Linked DNA regions of Homo sapiens: region 2 is linked to region 1. The links come from fine-mapping of genetic effects on gene expression. A gene starts in region 1. The other region holds a variant in brackets. All regions are shown on one strand. Distances are between the middles of the regions. Region 1 holds the start of SELENOM (selenoprotein M). Region 2 has its middle 21 kb from the start of TUG1.

Evidence for each region. PIP is the estimated chance that this variant, and not a neighbour inherited with it, causes the effect.
Region 2: its variant is fine-mapped to the expression of SELENOM in fibroblasts (GTEx, PIP 0.94).

Annotation. Positions count from the first base shown.
Region 1 is chr22:31,102,407-31,111,151 of GRCh38, forward strand. SELENOM (selenoprotein M) reads right to left here and starts at 5,162. Exons shown (of 5, transcript NM_080430.4): 1 at 4,971-5,162; 2 at 3,524-3,559; 3 at 3,252-3,286; 4 at 2,802-2,880; 5 at 2,371-2,722. The coding sequence starts at 5,099. The coding sequence ends at 2,564. It overlaps SMTN (smoothelin), which reads left to right. Exons shown (of 21, transcript NM_134269.3): 21 at 1,910-2,218. LOC105372995 (a long non-coding RNA gene) reads right to left here. Exons shown (of 3, transcript XR_938163.3): 2 at 5,665-5,697; 3 at 5,230-5,480. LOC124905100 (a long non-coding RNA gene) reads left to right here and starts at 5,476. Exons shown (of 2, transcript XR_007068063.1): 1 at 5,476-5,702; 2 at 7,573-8,046. RefSeq lists enhancers at 1,396-2,346, 3,846-4,618.
Region 2 is chr22:30,985,813-30,994,557 of GRCh38, forward strand. No RefSeq gene overlaps it. Among named protein-coding and RNA genes, the nearest start is that of TUG1, 21 kb to the left of the region's middle. The variant T/A (reference allele first, on the strand shown) is at 4,759.

The DNA of each region.
Region 1 (8,745 bases):
GGATTGGCTGAAGGAATGTGAGTCAGTGACAGGTAGGGGCACACTCAGATGCCCCTCAGGGCCTGGAGCCATTGTGGGGGGCAGTCCACATGTGCACACACACACTCAGAGAAGGAGCACAGATGAGTGGCGGATGGGCTTGGTGCTATCTCCAGATCATATATGGACTTAGGAGCTGCTGCCCAGCAAGCCAGCTTGGAGGGAGAGGGGCCCAGCCCAGCCCTGATCCAGTTGGAAAGTGTGACTCAGCCGTGCTGTTGCTCAAGTTGCCTGGTGTTTGGCCTGTCACTGGGGCAGCCTGAGCCCTGAGCCCTGAGCCCCAGTGTAAACAATGGCTTTATAAGGTCTCCAGGGAAGGGAGTGGGGCGGGAGGGAGCACCAGGTTGGAGAGGGCGGTCGGGATCCCCAGGACGATAGCCACAGCTGGAAGAAGCTTCAGAGAGAGGCTGCCTTTGCATCATGGTACAGCTCGGGAAACAAGCCCAGTCTGGGATAGGGATGACCCTAGGGGCACGTGGCACATCAGCAGCAGACCCAGAACCCTCTCACTCATCCTAAATTCTTGTAAGGTCTCAAATGAGATAGAGAATAACTGTCCTGTTCTAAAGAGGGGGAAACAGTCATAGAAAAGGGCCTTATCTAGCACCCACAACTGGTTAGGGATACAGTCTGGACTAAAACAGAGGTGTTCGGTGTTCTGCCTCCCAGGTTTCTTCTCTGAAGGAGTCCAGGTGAGCTGGGGGTAGGCCCAGCCCTACCACAGTTCTGAGTTTGTCCATAAGGGCACGAGATGGGAGGTGGTCTTGGGTTCTCAGGTGTCTTGAGAATAAGGAGCAATTGTTGCCATTATGCCTTCCCTGCCATAGGAAACTCATTCAGCAACATTGAATGCTTGCTATGTCCCAGGTATGGCAGATAGGAGGGATCAAGGCAGAAGAGGTCTTGCTCTGGGGGTTGAGGGACAGGGGAAAAGGAGCCAGAGAGCAGACTCCAGCTTCAGAGCTCTGGGAGCTGTCAGTTGCTTAATAGGCACAACCCACTCACTCCAGAGTGGGGAAAAGGCTTTGCCAACACCCAGAACTGGGGGCCTGGGTCCCATGCGGCCTAGCCTGCACTTACTAAGCCATGGGGCTTGAAACAAATGGCTCCTCTGCTCTGTGACTCAGTTTCCTTATCTGTGAAGGGCAGCTAGCATTCTGAAGGATGGCCAGAAGGGTGGTCCCCCCGAGCATGGCATAGATGGTCCATTGGTATTGGCTGGGATCCTCATCTGCCTCCTCTGCTCTACCCAAGGCAGGTGATAAGGGTTAGAGAACCCCTCTGCTGCCCACACGTTCCCTGGCCTCCATCTCCAGCAGCAGGGTTATCCCCACCCCCTGTCAAAGAATAGGGGTCCCTGGGCCTCTCAACAGGAAGTACCAGATCAGGCAGCTAGCAGACAATCATCGGTGGACCACAGGGCCACTAGAGTGAGACCTATCCATAGATAAAGATTGGCCAGTGATGAAGCCCATCTGGGTGCAAAGGCCGAGCTGAGAGGCTTCTACCAACTGGAGTGTGCCAGTGAGGGTGAGCAGAAGGTGGTCTCCAGGGAGAACATGGGCAGGGTTTGGAGCCAGCACCTCCCCAGGGTTGGAGGAAGCAGACCCAGGACCTGCCTGACTGGGATGGGGCTCTCTTCTGCCATCTCCGCCTCCACCTGCCTAGCTCTGCTCCCCCGCCCCGAGAGATGCCTCCAGGCTTGGGTAGATGAAGCCAGGGGCTTCCTGCCTTCCTGGAAGGCTTTTCCCTGTCTGGAGTTTATGAAAGACCAGCAGGCAATGCGGCAATAAAAAAGACCTTGGGGTAGAGGGGCGCCACGAGAGGCGGGTCTGGCGCTGACATCCAACCCCGTGCCCCCTCCCTGCAGGATGCTGGTGGACTGTGTGCCCCTGGTGGAGGTGGACGACATGATGATCATGGGCAAGAAGCCTGACCCCAAGTGTGTCTTCACCTATGTGCAGTCGCTCTACAACCACCTGCGACGCCACGAACTGCGCCTGCGCGGCAAGAATGTCTAGCCTGCCCGCCCGCATGGCCAGCCAGTGGCAAGCTGCCGCCCCCACTCTCCGGGCACCGTCTCCTGCCTGTGCGTCCGCCCACCGCTGCCCTGTCTGTTGCGACACCCTCCCCCCCACATACACACGCAGCGTTTTGATAAATTATTGGTTTTCAACGATCCTGACTCCTCTCTGCGTCTCCTGGGGGTGGGGAGGGGGTTTGAACCGAAGGCAGCTCCGCAAGGTCTCCAACTCCAGCAGGGATCCTCAGAGGTTCTTCTTCCGACCTCCCACCCCACCCGCCCGCAGCAACGAAGGAGTCGAGCCTCAGTTAAGGCAGGAGGGAATTTAGTGGAGCTGGGGAAGGAAGAAAGTGGGGTTGGGAGAACCTCCCCAACCCCATCCCTGCTGGCCCGGGGACGGGCATCGGCTCTCAGCAAGAGAAGTATTCCCGGGATGCTGAGCGCTTCATTCTGTCTCCAGGACTCAGGCAGGTAGGTCCCAGCTCCGCCGCGCCCCCGGACCTACAGGTCAGCGTGGTCCGAAGTTTCCTCTGGGGGCTTCGCGGGCGCCCACACGTACTCGGGGGGCACCTGCGCGTCGGGCGCCGCCTTGCGGTAGAAGCCGAGCTCCTGCACTAGCGCATTGATCTCTTCGCGGGTCATTTCACTGAGTGGGATGCGCTGAGGCGGAGGAGGGGCGGGGTCAGCAGGCTGGGCCTCGCCTCTGGCCTCGCCCCCAGCCCACCTCCCACGGCCTCACCTCTAGTTCCTCGTAGCGGCGGCCCAGCAGCACGAGCTCAGGGTCGGCCCCAGGGAGGTGTTTCATCACCAGGTTGTGACTGGAGGTGGTGTTAAGGAGCGGGGTGGTGGGCAGAGGGAGGTGGTGGTTTCCGCAGCCTTACTGATGGGAACAGCATTGCCTCCTTTGCTCAGAGCTTACTCTGTGCCCGGGAGGGGCCAGGGTCTCCGCTTATACGTGAGAAAATTAGGGTTCAAAGAAGTAAAGGGCCCTCCTCTCCATTCTGTGGCAGTCATCACTAGTCAATCTCTCTTGCCCACCCAACATGGAGACCACCTCAGAATCCTCTGGGAGCCACTACCAATCAATTCAACTTGTCAGTTGAAAACCATCTGCCACCCCTTTCTGAAGTTACGTGGAGATTCTCCCAGGTGCCCATCCCATTTCCCCTCCCCCAGAACAGAAGGATACTAGAATGGAATGTCCTGCGTGACGAAAGCCTTCACCTGGGGAGGAACCAGAGCATCAGAGACCATGACCTCAGTCTACTCGAGGTACAGACGAGACACTGAAGCCCAGTGAGGTCATAAAGCAAGTCAGGTGCAGGCTAGACTCTCAGCCTAGGCTAGACTCTCAGCCTAGGGATCCTTCCCCCCTCCCCGCCCCAGTCATTGGGACCATGTTGCCCACTCCCCAAGAGGCTCAGGGGGAACAGAGCTAGGGACCTCTTCCTTCAAACTCACCTCCTTTAGGCGGTTCAGCTGTCATCCCCCGCAGGTCTGGAGGGGGATAAAATGGGATAGGTCAGGAGTCCTTCACGTTTATTCCAGTCACATCCCCAAAGCCATACTTCCTTATCCCTGAGTTGGGTCGGGCTGTGAGTTATCCCCGGATCAGCAGTTCCCAAGGTCTGAAGGAAATGCTGGACCCTTGTGGGCAGAAGGGGGAACTGTGTATACAGGTGGGGAGACTCAGGCCTAGAGACACCAGGGGAAAAGAGCAAGGCCAGAGACCCACAGTGTGCCTGCCAGCCTTGGGGCCTGTACATCCTACTGGCTGTGGACTGACTCCCAATGCCCAGGGGAAATGATCACCCTGCTCCTCTTAAGCAGTAGAGACCTGGGCTTGGCCTTTGATCCCTGAAATCTCACAGTGGAGGCAGAGCAGAAGGAAACACCTCAGAATGGCCCTGGGGGCCCCCATTGGAGACACCTACCATCTGGTCCCTACTCTACACAGGCAGACCTCACCCTGCCTGCCACCTGCGGCCCAGCCCCACAGACCATGTGGTTGCTTCCCTGACATGGGAGGATGGGAGGGCTCCTCCCTGCCTTCCCTGAGGAGATGCCACCATCCAGCAGGAGTCTAGACCCCAGGACCACCCACTCCAGCCCTCCTCCATCCTACCCTCAGCCCTTTTCTTAGAGACAGGGTCTCACTATGTCCCCCAAGCTGGTCTTGAACTCCTGGGCTCAAGCAATCCTCCTGCCTTGGCCTCCCAAAGTGCTGGGATTACAGGCGTGCACCACCGGCACCCAACCATTCTACACCCTTTTGTCAGACAGAGCTGACAAAAAGCTCAGAGGCGGGCTGTGATGGTCAAAGTCACATAGCAAGACAGGGACTCCGAACGGGAATTTCCTGGTTGGGGGAGGATGGGAGGCTGCTGCAGAGTAAATGTTGGCAACCAAGTTCCCAACTCGGTTGCCCCTCCGAGTTGGCCCCCTTCCCCGGATCCTGCATATGGGAGGAGGCACCCAGAAAGTCTTCTTTCCCCCCAGGAGAAGGAAAAGAGACTTTCTGGAGCCTCCAGCCCTGGAACCGGGTCGGGGGGGAATTCCAGGAAAACATGAAGTGATGGGGGATGGGAAGTTGGGACAGGATTGGGAGTCATAGGCCACGAGAAGAGTTAGGAGACTGCGTCAGTGTGTCTGGGTGTCCGCTGTCGGACCGGGTAGGGGGAGCTGGGGAAGGGTTCGGAGTTCCAGGCCCCAAAGTCGGTGTCTCAGGCTTCCACGGTGGATGCTGGGGCCATCTGGGGCTAGGGAACAGGAGGGATGGTCCCGGCGCCAGGGGGAAAGCAGGGAGACTCGCGGTTCGAGGTGGTCTTGGGGCCGGGACGGACGGTGCTCCCATGGGGCCGCAGGGTTGGGGAACGATAGTGCCGGGGCTGGAGGCCGGCGTACTCACCTCTACCCGGGCGCGGGTTAGGCCGCTCAGACGGTTCCAGTCCGGCCGGTAGGCAGTGGCGGCTGTGGCTGGGGCCACAAGCGCCGCGAGAAGCAGCAGCAGCGCCAGCGGAGGCAACAGGAGGCTCATCGGGACCCGGCCGCAGATGATGCGCAAGCTGGAGGCGAACCTCCGAGTCGCTGCGCCACGTCTGGGCCCCCAGGCTGGCCCCGCCCCCGCCCCCGCCCCCACTCCCGCTAGAGGCCCAGTCCCGCTGGAGACCACGCCCCCAGCGCTCGGTCTCCGCCCCAGGACTCCCCGCCGTTACCTCCCGCTAGCTCAGGGCGAGGTCCTGGCTCCTCCCTGGCGTTTGGGCCGTCACTTTCCCAGGTCCGAGAGTGTCGACGCTCCTTTTGTCGACCGAGGATGTGGACGCTCCCCCAGGATGCGGCCAGGCAGCGCCACCTCACGCCGGCAGAGGGTGCCGGCGAGACGCTGAGGGACACTGGAGTTTCTGAGCCGAACCTGCGACTTTAAGATAGGGAAACTGGTAGGACATCCAAGAAAAAAAAAGGAAAGAAAGAAAGAAGAATAAATAAGGGAAACTGGCTTTCTGAGGACTCCTCGCTTTGGAGCGTGGGAGATGAGGAGTGAGGTTCGGTGGAGGGGGTGCGGCTTCTGGGAGCCACTGAGACCTACCAGCGTGTCTTCTTACCATCCACAGCTACTGCTGAGCAGACTTTCTGACCTGGGGTGAGGAAAGGAATTTGCTATTCAAAGGTGGGAAAATGCAAGGAGGGTTACAGCTGATAGGCCACAACAGGGTCTTAAATCAGCTGGGTTAAATTTATGGAGTCAGGATTTACTTTTTTTTTTAATGTGGCTATCCAATTCAATTAAAAATCTTGTCTTTTTCATTGCTACTCTGCCGCGTTACCTCTGTTATATATAAATAGGCAACCACGGCCGGGCGTGGTGGCTCACACCTGTAATCCCAGCACTTTGGGAGGCCGAGGTGGGTAGATCACTTGAGGTCAGAAGTTCGAGGCCAGCCTGGCCAACATGGTGAAACCCCATCGCTACTAAAAATACAAAAATTAGCTGGGCGTGGTGTGGGCGCCTGTAATCCTAGCTACTTGGGAGGCTGAGGCAGGAGAATCACTTCAACCTGGGAGGCAGAGTTTGCAATGAGCCGACATCCTACCACTGCACTCCAGCCTGGGCGACAGAGACTGTCTCAAAAATAAATAAATAAATAAATAGGTAACCATATAAATATATGGGAGTCTACTTCTGAATATCATACCCTATTCTAGTCCTTCAGTGGGTTTGTCTAACTACGCTGTCTTATTAACTATAGCTTTATAGTCAGACTTGACATCTGGTTGTGTGTTGGTCCTCTAGCTTTGTTCTTTCTTTCTTTCTTTTTTTTTTTGAGACGGAGTCTCGCTCTGTTGCCCAGGCTGGAGTTCAGTGGCCTGATCTCGGCTCACTGCAACCTCCGCCTCCCGGGTTCAAGCAATTCTCCTGCCTCAGCCTCCCGAGTAGCTGGGACTACAGGCACGCGCCACCACGCCCAGCTAATTTTTTTGTATTTTTAGTAGAGATGGGGTTTCACTGTGTTAGCCAGGATGTTCTTGATCTCCTGATCTCATGATCCGCCCGTCTCAGCCTCCCAAAGTGCTGGGATAACAGGTGTGAGCCACTGCGCCTGGCCCATTTTTTTTTGTTTTTTTGTTTGTTTGTTTTTTTGAGACAGAGTCTTGCTCTGTCAGCCAGGCTGGAGTGCAGTGGCACGATCTCAGCTCACTGCAACCTCCACCTCCCAGGTTCAAGCGATTCTTCTGCCTCAGCCTCCCAAGTAGCTGGGATTACAGGTGCCCACCACCACGCCCAGCTAATTTTGTATTTTTAGTAAATATGGGGGTTTCATCATCTTGGCCAGGCTGGTCTCGAACTCCTAACCTCAAGTCATCCACCCGCCTTGGCCTCCCAAAGTCCTGGGATTACAGGTGTGAGCTGCTGGGCTGGCTATTTTTTTTTTTTTTTTGAGACAGAGTCTTGCTCTGTTGCCCAGGCTGGAGTGCAGTGGCTCAATCACAGCCTGAACCTCCCAGGCTCAAGCAATCCTCCCACCTCAGCCTCCTGAGTAGCTGGGACTACAGGCATGCACCATCATGCCCAGCTGATTTTTTTTTTTTTTTTTTGAGACGGAGTTTCACTCTCATTGTCCAGGCTGGACACTCTCATGTCCAGTGGCATGATCCGGACTCACTGCAACCTCTGCCTCCCAGGTTCAAGCGATTCTCTTGCCTCAGCCTCCTAAGTAGCTGGGATTACAGGCGTCGGCCACCACACCCGGCTAATTTTTTGTCTTTTTAGTAGAGACGAGGTTTCACCATGTTGACCAAGCTGGTCGCAAACTCCTGGGCTCAAGTGATCCTCCTGCCTTGGCCTCCCAAAGTACTGGGATTACAGGCATGAGCGACCATGCCTGGCCTGTGGCCTACATTTTCCTGTGGTGAGGGCCATGTGTGATCCCACAGCCTCAGTAAGCCATCGCAGTCTAGCTTTGTTCTTCTTGAAGGTTGTCTTGACTATACTTGGCCTTTCACACTTCCAGGTACAATTTAGGGCCAGCTCGTCAACCTCCACAGAAAAACCTTCCAAATTTCTATCAGGATTTCAGATTCCCACTGGGGAAATCAATGTGGGGAGACTCTACAGCTTTACATTATTGTGACTTTTCTTCCACGAACATAGTAAGTCCCTCCATTTCTATAGGTCTTCTTTAATTTCCTTCAATAATATTTTGTGGTTTTTAGAATAAATATCTTGCATATCTTTCATTAGATTTACTCCTAGGTATTTAATTTTTTATAGCATTACAAACTCTATTGTTTTTACATATTCATTTTCAAGTTGCTTGGTAGTAGCATATAGGAAGACAATTGATTTTTGTATATTAACCTTGCAGCCAGTGACCTTACTGAATTTTCTTACTCTAATAGTTTAACTGGATATTTTTTTTTATTTTCTACATATGCATATTATATCATCTGGAAATAAAAGTGGTTTTCTTCCTTTCTGGTCCTTATACCTTGGTTTTGTTTCGTTGCACTGTCTTAATTTTACGGTCTGGGGCCTCTGGTACAATGTTGACTGGAACTGATAATTGTCTTTTTCCAGATATCATCTTTAAACGATCATGTTTGCTGTAGGTTTGTTACTGGTGCCTTTTGTAAAAGAAAGTTTTCTATTTCTATTTTTCTTAGAGCTTTTATCATGAATGGATGTTGAACTTTGTCAAATGTTTTCCTGCATCTATTGAGATGATCATGTGGTTTTTCTCCTTTATTTTATTAAATGTGGTAAAATATGTGAACTGATTTTCATATGTTAAACCTTGCATTCCTGTAATAAACCAATTTGGTTGTAGAAAAAAAGAGATAGGAAAACCGAACCCTAGGGAATCCCTGTTTGCGCTGTTTGTTTATTCAGTAGATTACGGGGTCTTGCTGCTGACCAGGCTGGTCTCAAACTCCTGGTCTCAAGTGATCCTCCTGCCTCAGCCTCCCAAAGTGCTAGAATTACAGGTGTGAGCCACTCCACCTGGCCTTTTTATTTCTTTGGACAAAAATTCCAATCAAGGTTTTTACTTCCCAGAGCACACATTGTGGTGATGCAATATTGTGTACCCTGTTGGGATTGGCAGGATAAAGGGGTTAACACATATAAAGCTCATTAGAACAGTACCTAATACAGGACGGGCATGGTGGCTCATGCCTGTAATCCC
Region 2 (8,745 bases), 120 kb before region 1:
TGTATTTGTTCTTCCCAGAGTAAACACATTTTTCAGTTTCCCTGGCAGGTGTAACCCACTAACTAAATTTTAGCCAGTGGGACCTGAGTAACTTATAGGACTTATCCTTAAAAAGGAGTGAGCCCATCTCCTTCCTTCACCCTCCTGACTAGAATGTAGGCTTCACCCCGCTGACTAGAATTCCATGACTGGAATTTGTCACTGTTGGACCATAAAGGAGAAGGCACTCTGTGCCAGTGACGATGGAGCAACAAGTTAGAAGGAGCCTAGATTCCTGATGAATGTGAAGCCACCTTACCAGGCCTGAACTGCTTATCTCTGGACCTCGTTTACAAAACTAATTTCTGTCTTCTTGACATCATTAGTATATGAGGTTTTTCTCTGCCTCACAACTGAACGTAGTCTGCCCATAAATATTTTGCTGGAAATATTTCTTAGGAACATCTGATTCCATCCGTTCTGATTTTATACTACTGAATCAACCTGCCCCTAGCTGGACTCACTAAGAGTAGATGACTGGTTGGGTCATGAACCAGCCACATATCTTTAATCATAAATTAATAGGGCTGTGCACAGTGGCTCACGCCTGTAATCCCAGCACTTTGGAAGGCCGAGGCGGGCAGATCACTTTAGGTCAGGACATCTAGACCAGCCTGGCCAACATGGTAAAATCCGTCTCTACTAAAAATACAAAAATTAAGCCAGGCGTGGTGGGTGCCTGTAATCCCAGCCACTCAGGAGGCGGAGGTTGCAGTGAGCTGAGAGCTGAGAGCGCACCATTGCACTCCAACCTGGGGAACAAGAGTGAGATCCGTCTCAAGAAAAAAATCATAAATTAATAAATTGGTCTCTTTATTAGTTCAGTGGCCCTCCTTTATGCTCTCAGAGTCTCACTGTTATGGACATCCATTGCTTTTGTCTACTCAGTATCTATCTTCACTTCTTTTGATAAGAGAATATTAGTTGCGCTCTGAGTTTCCAACCCTCCTTCACTTTCTGTCTGTTCACTACCCCTGGCTCCAGGACTGAGCATGTAACTCGGACCGACCAGAGCACTGCAGCGCCTTGGTCAGGGTAGTTGGATATGGAGTGAGTTTATTATCTAAGCCAAGCCAGTTTTACACAAATAGAGCTAATGGAGGTGGGGGAATTTCCTTTTTAATCTATTGAATTTAGAACTGTAAGGTTGCAAGACTGGCATTATTGGCAGCCCTCTTGCCACCACAAGGAGGTTGCTCATCTGAGAATGAGGCTGGTCTTGAACTCCTGACCTCAGGTGATTTGCCTGCCTCGGCTTCCCAAAGTGCTGGGATTACAGGAGTGAGCCACTGCATCCGGCCTAATTCTGCTGTTTCTGTTCCACTTCTGTTGACTCAGGAGAATGGCAAAGATGAGCCCAGGAGTCCTTAAGATTCTCAGTGTTCCACTCTTGATGTAATTGTTGATCTAGCTTCAGCCCATTTCCCTGACCTAATGACTGGGTCTTATTTCGGCTACTTTAAGACATGGAGACCTACTGGTTTGGGATGGCAACCTGGGATAAAACTGTGAGGGCTTCTGGGATATTCTAATTGTTTGGAATTACACCTAAGCAGAAAAATACCTTTTATTATTGTTGGTGTAAAGGACCAGGACTCTGACTGAAACAAACCTACGGTTTTTTTTTTTTAATAACAAGTAGCAATTGAGGGTATGGGACCTTGATCTGATGCAGTCAGTGCAGTGGTAAGCCATTTATCCCTGTGGAGTGTGCCCAGGCTCCCAGGACTGTTCACCTGCTCTGATAGAGATGACAGAGGTCATGTTTCATTTTTTCTTTTTTAATTTTTTGAGATGGAGTCTCACTCTGTCATCCAGGCTGGAGTGTAGTGGTGCAATCTCGGCTCACTGCAACCTCCGTCCCCTGGGTTCAGGCAATTCTCCTACCTCAGCCTCCCGAGTAGCTAGGATTACAGGCGTGCACCACCACACCTGGCTAATTTTTGTATTTTTAGTGGAGACAGGATTTCACTATATTGGCCAGAATGGTCTCAAATTCATGGCCTCAAGTGATCTGCCCAAGAAAGGCCATATTTCTATGAATGAGAATTGGACCTTCTTAATCCAGGCCTCCTACCACATTTGCTAACTGGCCAACTGGCATGAGTGGCATCCAAGGACCTCAGCCCATGAGAGAAAGGGAATGTGACATGTTTTTCTGTCGACAGCATTTCTGAGGGTGGTGGGGTAAATAAGAAATTGCTTTTCCTTATAAAACAAATTGAATGTGATAGCATGTGCATGTCATTGACACCAGCAGTTGTGCTGTGGTTAAAAATGGCAAGGGAATGGCTGGCTGAGCTAAGTCTTCCAGGATATTGTTGCCTTAACAGCATTATTGCTAACAATTGCCATTTGCTCAGGCAACATGGTGAAACCCCATCTCTACAAAAATATAAAAATTAGCTGGGCATGTTGGTGGGTGCCTGTAATCCCAGCTACTCGGGAGGCTGAGGCAGGAGAATCACTTAAACCCGGGAGGTGGAGATTGTACTGAGCCAAGATCGTGCCATTGCACTGCAGCCTGGGTGATAGAGCGACACTCCATCTCAAAAAAAAAGAGCAGAATCACGTTTGCCTGATTCAACACTTGGCCTCTTTGGACAAGAGTCTGATTTCTCAAGTTCAGATGATGCCTGGAACTCTTTGGAGTTGGAGAGAAGATGGTTTGGCCAGAGAAGATCAGAGGCTGTTTTAGGTCTTCTAGGATTCAGGAGACATACATAGAACATGGCTTCCATGGAGGTGGCGAGACAGGAGAACCAACGAACTCAGGCTCCAGTCATAAATATTTACTGGTATGCTCATAACACAACAATGATGGTCCTCAAAATGACATTCAACTTGCGTCCTATCCTAAGAACAAACACCTGGAGTGCACTATGAACTGATGTTTTAAATCTCTGTTTGCCTTGTGACCAGCACAATTATACTGCAGTATATTCTGTGTGTATTTTACAATATTCATTTTCCAATGTAATCACTTAAGTTATACCACAAATTTTGGAAAGTGTATGACAAATCAAGAATGAAATCAGAGTTCAGAGCAACACGTAAACATGCACATGCACACATGAGACAGCCCTGGAAACCAGCCCCAAAGACAGGACCTAGAAGAGGTCTTGATGAAAGGCAGCCTGTAGTAGAACAGGCTTCGTTGCAGGTCCTACAGAAGAACGGGGTTGAGTTATGCAGCTTCTCCCATCCCTTTCTGGCCCAAAGCAAGCCCCAACCCCAACCACTTTGAGATGCTACATTATGTTTAACTATGGGAAAACTCACAGTGATCAAAAATGAATGTGGAAAAGTTTCAAGAAACCTCGAGTCTATAATAGCAAGTATCCTTGGCTTTGGCCGAAAAGCAAATTGATACCAAGTTGTTCTTAGCACTTCGCCAAATGGATTGCTGTTTCCTTGTGCCTGGAGCACCCAAAAAGGGAATGAGGGCTGAGGCTGCTGTGTTTATAGCTCTTCGCCAAGATACCTCTCCCAGTACCCTCTTTTAAGGCAAAGAACCCTGCTCCAATAGCATTGTGTCCTGACAGCCCTGTGGACCCCTTTGATGATAACCACATACTCTTGCTTCACCTCTGTGCTTGTCCTTAGGACCTAACAGCCTAAGAAGGAGAGGCAGAACCTGCTTATTCCCTTCTTTCCTTGCCTCTCTCATTTCCTGGTCTTTCTTCCACTTGGAAAATTTGAGTCAGATTTCCATGTGTCTTCCACCTAGGCCTTACAGGAAACCACTTCCTTTTATACATCTTTGGGTGCCCTATGTGGAGGGGATCCTCACACACTCTCCCTGGCTCTGACTCCTTCCCCTTCCCCTAAACCTATAGTGTCCATATTCTACCCCTGCCTTGTGAAATTTCATAAGGAGGAAGTTGCTCAACATCTATCAAGACTCATAGAAGATAAAGGGCTGTAAGAAATTTGGAAACTTCACATTCAGATTGCTGCTAAGAACTCAGATCAAGATGTGGTATACAGGACATATACATAAATTGTTGGGTTTAGTGCAAAATGAAAATGCGGGGTCCCTTGTTCAAAAATCATTAAGAATTTCAAGAAGGTGACAATAGAGCACAAAACAAATGTGAGGCCCTTCTGGGAGCAGGGCCCTTTTAAGTATGGAGGCTTGTGTGACTCCGCAGGTTGCATGCCCAGTAATCTAGCCCTGATGGTATATTTTGCTCAAATATCCTTTGGTTAAGCATCTAAAACACACCCATACCACCCCGTCTCCCAATTCTGGACAGCATTCTGTAACATTATTACAATACATGTTAATAACTGATTAGGGCTGGGAATGGAACTAAGATCTCTGCTTTTATCCACTGTATGAGGATCCCCTCCATATAAATGATCTTCTACGCAGGCTTCTACCAAAACCTCATTCTCTGAGCCATATATCTTCTTCAACCTGGAAAACAATGGACCCATGATGGTGGATGAATAAGAACAGAGGCTTTTTAGCCACTCAACTAGGAGATGTTGATAACAGAATAGTAGCTTTCTTTTATCAAACCCTTAGCATGTGCCAGACACAACTCTGCAATTTACACACGTCATCTCATTTGACATGTTTCAGGTATGAATTTTATTCCATAGCCCTAGCGCAAGAAGTTTCCCATACCTTTATAGGTTATTTCATGCCGCCCTGAGTCTACTTGCTCACACCGCCCTACCCCCAGCCATGACTCTGTGATGACAAAAATC[T/A]AAGGCACCTCCCATGGTGGTCACCACATGGAAAAAAAGCACCTCCTTCACCTGCTATTAGACATCATGCCCAGGACGCTTCCTTCTGGTGTCCAGAGACACTGGCTCTTCCTTCAGTCCAGTCCCCCAACTGACTTCAGATATACACCTGGACACTCACCTTCTCCAGCTGTAAGGACAAGCAAGAATTAGGTCTCCTCCATGTTTTGAACATCCTCAAATCCTGTCCCCTTCTTATTTCAAATCTTTGCATGGCCCTGAAACACCGAATACTAAGGACATCTCCAGATGGGGTATGAGACAGCAATATCATCAGCCTCCTTTTGCTGGGGCTGGGCTGGAGATAAGAGCTGCTTACACCAGAGAGTGTTTTATATTTTCCTTTAATAACTTGCCAGGCAACATCAGATGAAGAAACTTTGGCTGAAAGAAGCCATTAATCTAAGGTTCTATAGCTAGGAAGTGGCAGGGCCAGGATTTGAAGCTGCCTGATCTATTCCCCAGATGTAGGCCACCTGCCACCATCATTGAGATCACCTTCAGAGAGTTCATTCAGAACTTCGCAAGCCTCACACTGGCCTACAGAATGAAAACCTCTGAGGAGAACCTTAGCTTCTGGAATTTCTATCTGGAATTCCAGCCAACCTCACAATATTAAGTGGCAGACAGGCTTAAAGGTGTTCTTACCCCCACCACTCTCCAATGATCCATGCTTCCTGGTGTTCACATCTATCTTAGTCATCTCAGGCTGCCATAACAAAATACCACAGACTGAGTGGTTTAAACAACAGAAATTAATTTCTCACACTTCTGGAGGCTGGAAATCTGAGATTAGGGTGATCAGCTGCCTTGGTTTCTGAGGGCTCTCTTTCTGGCTTATATATGGTTGCCTTCTCAATATGTCCTCATATGGCTTTACTTGGTGCATGCACATAGAGAAAGAGCTCTTCTTACAAGGTCACTAATCCTATCAGATCAGGGCCTCACCCTTGTGACCTCATTTAATATTACATCCTTAGAGGCTCATCTTCAAATATAGTCACACTGTGGGGGTGAGGGTTAGGGCTTCAATGTGAATTTTACTGAAATATTCAGTCCATAACAGTACCTTTGTGTCATCCCTTCCCTTTCAATTGACTTCCCCTTAAGGTGGGTTTTATGATTTCCTTTTAGAAAATGTTGTCTTGGCTGGGCATGGTGGCTCACGCCTGTAATCCCAGCACTTTGGGAGGCCAAGGCAGATGGATCACTTGAGGTCAGGAGTTCGAGACCAGCCTGGCCAACATGGTGAAACACTGTGTCTACTAAAATACAAAAAAAAAAAAAAATCAGCTGGGCATGGTGGTGTGTGCCAGTAGTCCCAGTTACTCAGGAGGCTGAGCCAGGAGAATTACTTGAACCCAGGAGGTGGAGGTTACAGTGATCCCAAGATCATGCCACTGCACTCCAGCCTGGCCTGGGTGGCAGAACAAGACCCTGCTTAAAAAAAAAAAAAAAAAAAAAAATAGTGTCTTGCTCTAGAAGCTCTCCTTGCTGGTTTGTTAAAGAAAGTGGACATGTTGGGAAATCCCAAATGGCAAGAAACTGTGGGTATAGATCTGAGGGTGGCTTCCAAGCAAAGGACAGCAAGAAGCTGGGGCCCTCTGTCCCACAGCTCCAAGGAACTGAATTCTGCCAACAACTTGAGTGTGCTTGGAAGTGGATTCTTCCCCATTCAAACATCCAGATGAGAACACAGCCCACCCAACATCTTGACTGTAGCCTTGTGGGTCCCTGAGCAGAGGACTCGGCTAAGCCATGCCTGGACTCCCAGCCCACAGAAACTGTGAGATAATGTGTGTTGTTTTAAGCCACTAAGTTTGTGGTAATTTGTTGTATAGCAAGGGAAAACCAATAAATTAGAAAACCCCACAGTCTTCACCCACAAGGCTGCATGGATGATTCCTCTCTTTTTTACTTCTACCCAGAAGCAACTTGTGTACTTACTGAGCATGACAAAGGGCATGTGCCAAAAGGCCTGCTTTTAAACTTTTTTAATTTCTTGATTATCAAAAGTAATAGATGTTCATTGTAGAAAATCTGGAAGCACACAAAAAGAAAATAAAAATTACCCAGAATAATTTCCTCCTGCCAACTCAGATAACCACAGATAACACATTGGCAAGTAGCCTTCACCACCTTGGTTCTATACAGGGAGGCTGGATAAAGTTACAAACAGAGAATGTTCTGTACGGACCGTTTTGTGACTTGCTCTTTCCAGTGTCAGCCCACATTTTCTGAAGAATTTGAAGCATCAGAGGGGTGAATTTGTTTCCAGCATTTTGGGCCATTGCCAGATTCCATTTTTAATGACCTCAGGTTTTTCCCAGAGTGGGCTTTGGCAAAGGAGACTCATTAAAAGGAAACTGAGGCCAGAGAGGGGAGGACATGCCAAAGGCCAGATAGCCTGTTGGCACCCAGAGAGTTCCCTCCTTCCAAATTCCTCATAACATCGTAGCTTAGCTGCTGTATTCCCAAAACCCACACAGTGCCCCAGAGCTTTACCCTTGGAATTATTATCAGAGATAAGTTCCTTAAAGCCACAGCCTCATCTCCAATCAAGGGAGTTCCTTGGAGGGACTTGGAATAGGAAGAAGCTAGAACCCTCTGAGATCTGGCCATCCACCACCCATGAGGCCCAATTCTTCCCTGGTCCCCTGAGCAACTGAAAATCAGCTCCTAGAGTATCATTTCAGAACTTTGAGCATTTGGGCTTCTTTTATTTTATTTTATTTTGTTTTATTTATTTATTTTTTGAGACAGGATCTCACTCTGTCGCTCAGGCTGGAGTGCAGTGGCGTGATCTCAGCTCATTGCAACCTCCACCTCCCAGGTTTCAGTGATCCTCCAACTTCAGCAACCCTAGTAACTGCCACCACACCCAGCTGATTTTTTTTATCCTTTGTAGAGACAGGGTTTTGCCATGTTGCTCAGGCTGGTCTCGAACTCATGGACTCAAGGGATCCACCAGCTTTGGCCTCCCAAAGTGCTGGAATTACAGACATGACCCACTGCGCCCAGCCTTTTCCTTTTAAATGTGAGTGGGAAGATAGTAAGGAAAGAGAAGGAAGGAAGAAGGAAGGCAGGAGTCATTTTATTCAATAAACTTTCATCAAGCCTCTGGAAGACCAGTCCTCTGTGCTAAGTACTGGAGCTATTGCGACGAGGTAGCATGAGGTCACTTTATTTGCTTATTTATTTATTTTTTGAGACAGGGTCTCACTCTGTTATCCAGGCTGGAGTGCAATGGCACGATCTTTGCTCACTGCAACCTCTGCCTTCTAGGTTCAAGCGATTCTCCTGCCTCAGCCTCCCGAGTAGCTGGGATTACAGGCATCTACCACCATGCCCAGCTAATTTTTGTAATTTTAGTGGAGACGGAGTTTCACTTTGTTGGCCAGGCTGATCTCAAACTCCTGACCTCAAGTGATCCGCCCACCTCAGGCTCCCAAAGTGCTGGGATTGTGGCCGAGGTCACTTTCAATACTTAGTTTAACATTTGTAAACTATGATTGTTCCAGTTGTTTGTTGCTGTATCACAAACCACCCCAAAAAGCTTAGTATCATAAAACAACAAGCATTTTATATACTTATGATTCTGTGGGTCAGGAATTGGGCAGGACACAGTATGGATGGTTCATCTCTGTTCTTAGATATCTAAGACATCAGCTGCAGTGCAGTGCAGTGCAGTGCAGTGATGATGGCTGAAGATGGCTGGGACAGCTCAACTGGGGCCATGAGCTTGGGGCCTCAGTTCTTCTCCGTGATGCGTCTTCTGGGGTGGTGTATAAGTTAGGATTCTCCAGAGGGACAGATGTATATAAAAGGGGATAGGATAGGATAGATGTATATAAAAGGGGAGTTTATTAAGGAGTATTGACTCACACAATCACAAGGTGAAGTCCCATAATAGGCCATCTGCAAGCTGAGAAGCAAGGAAGCCAGTCG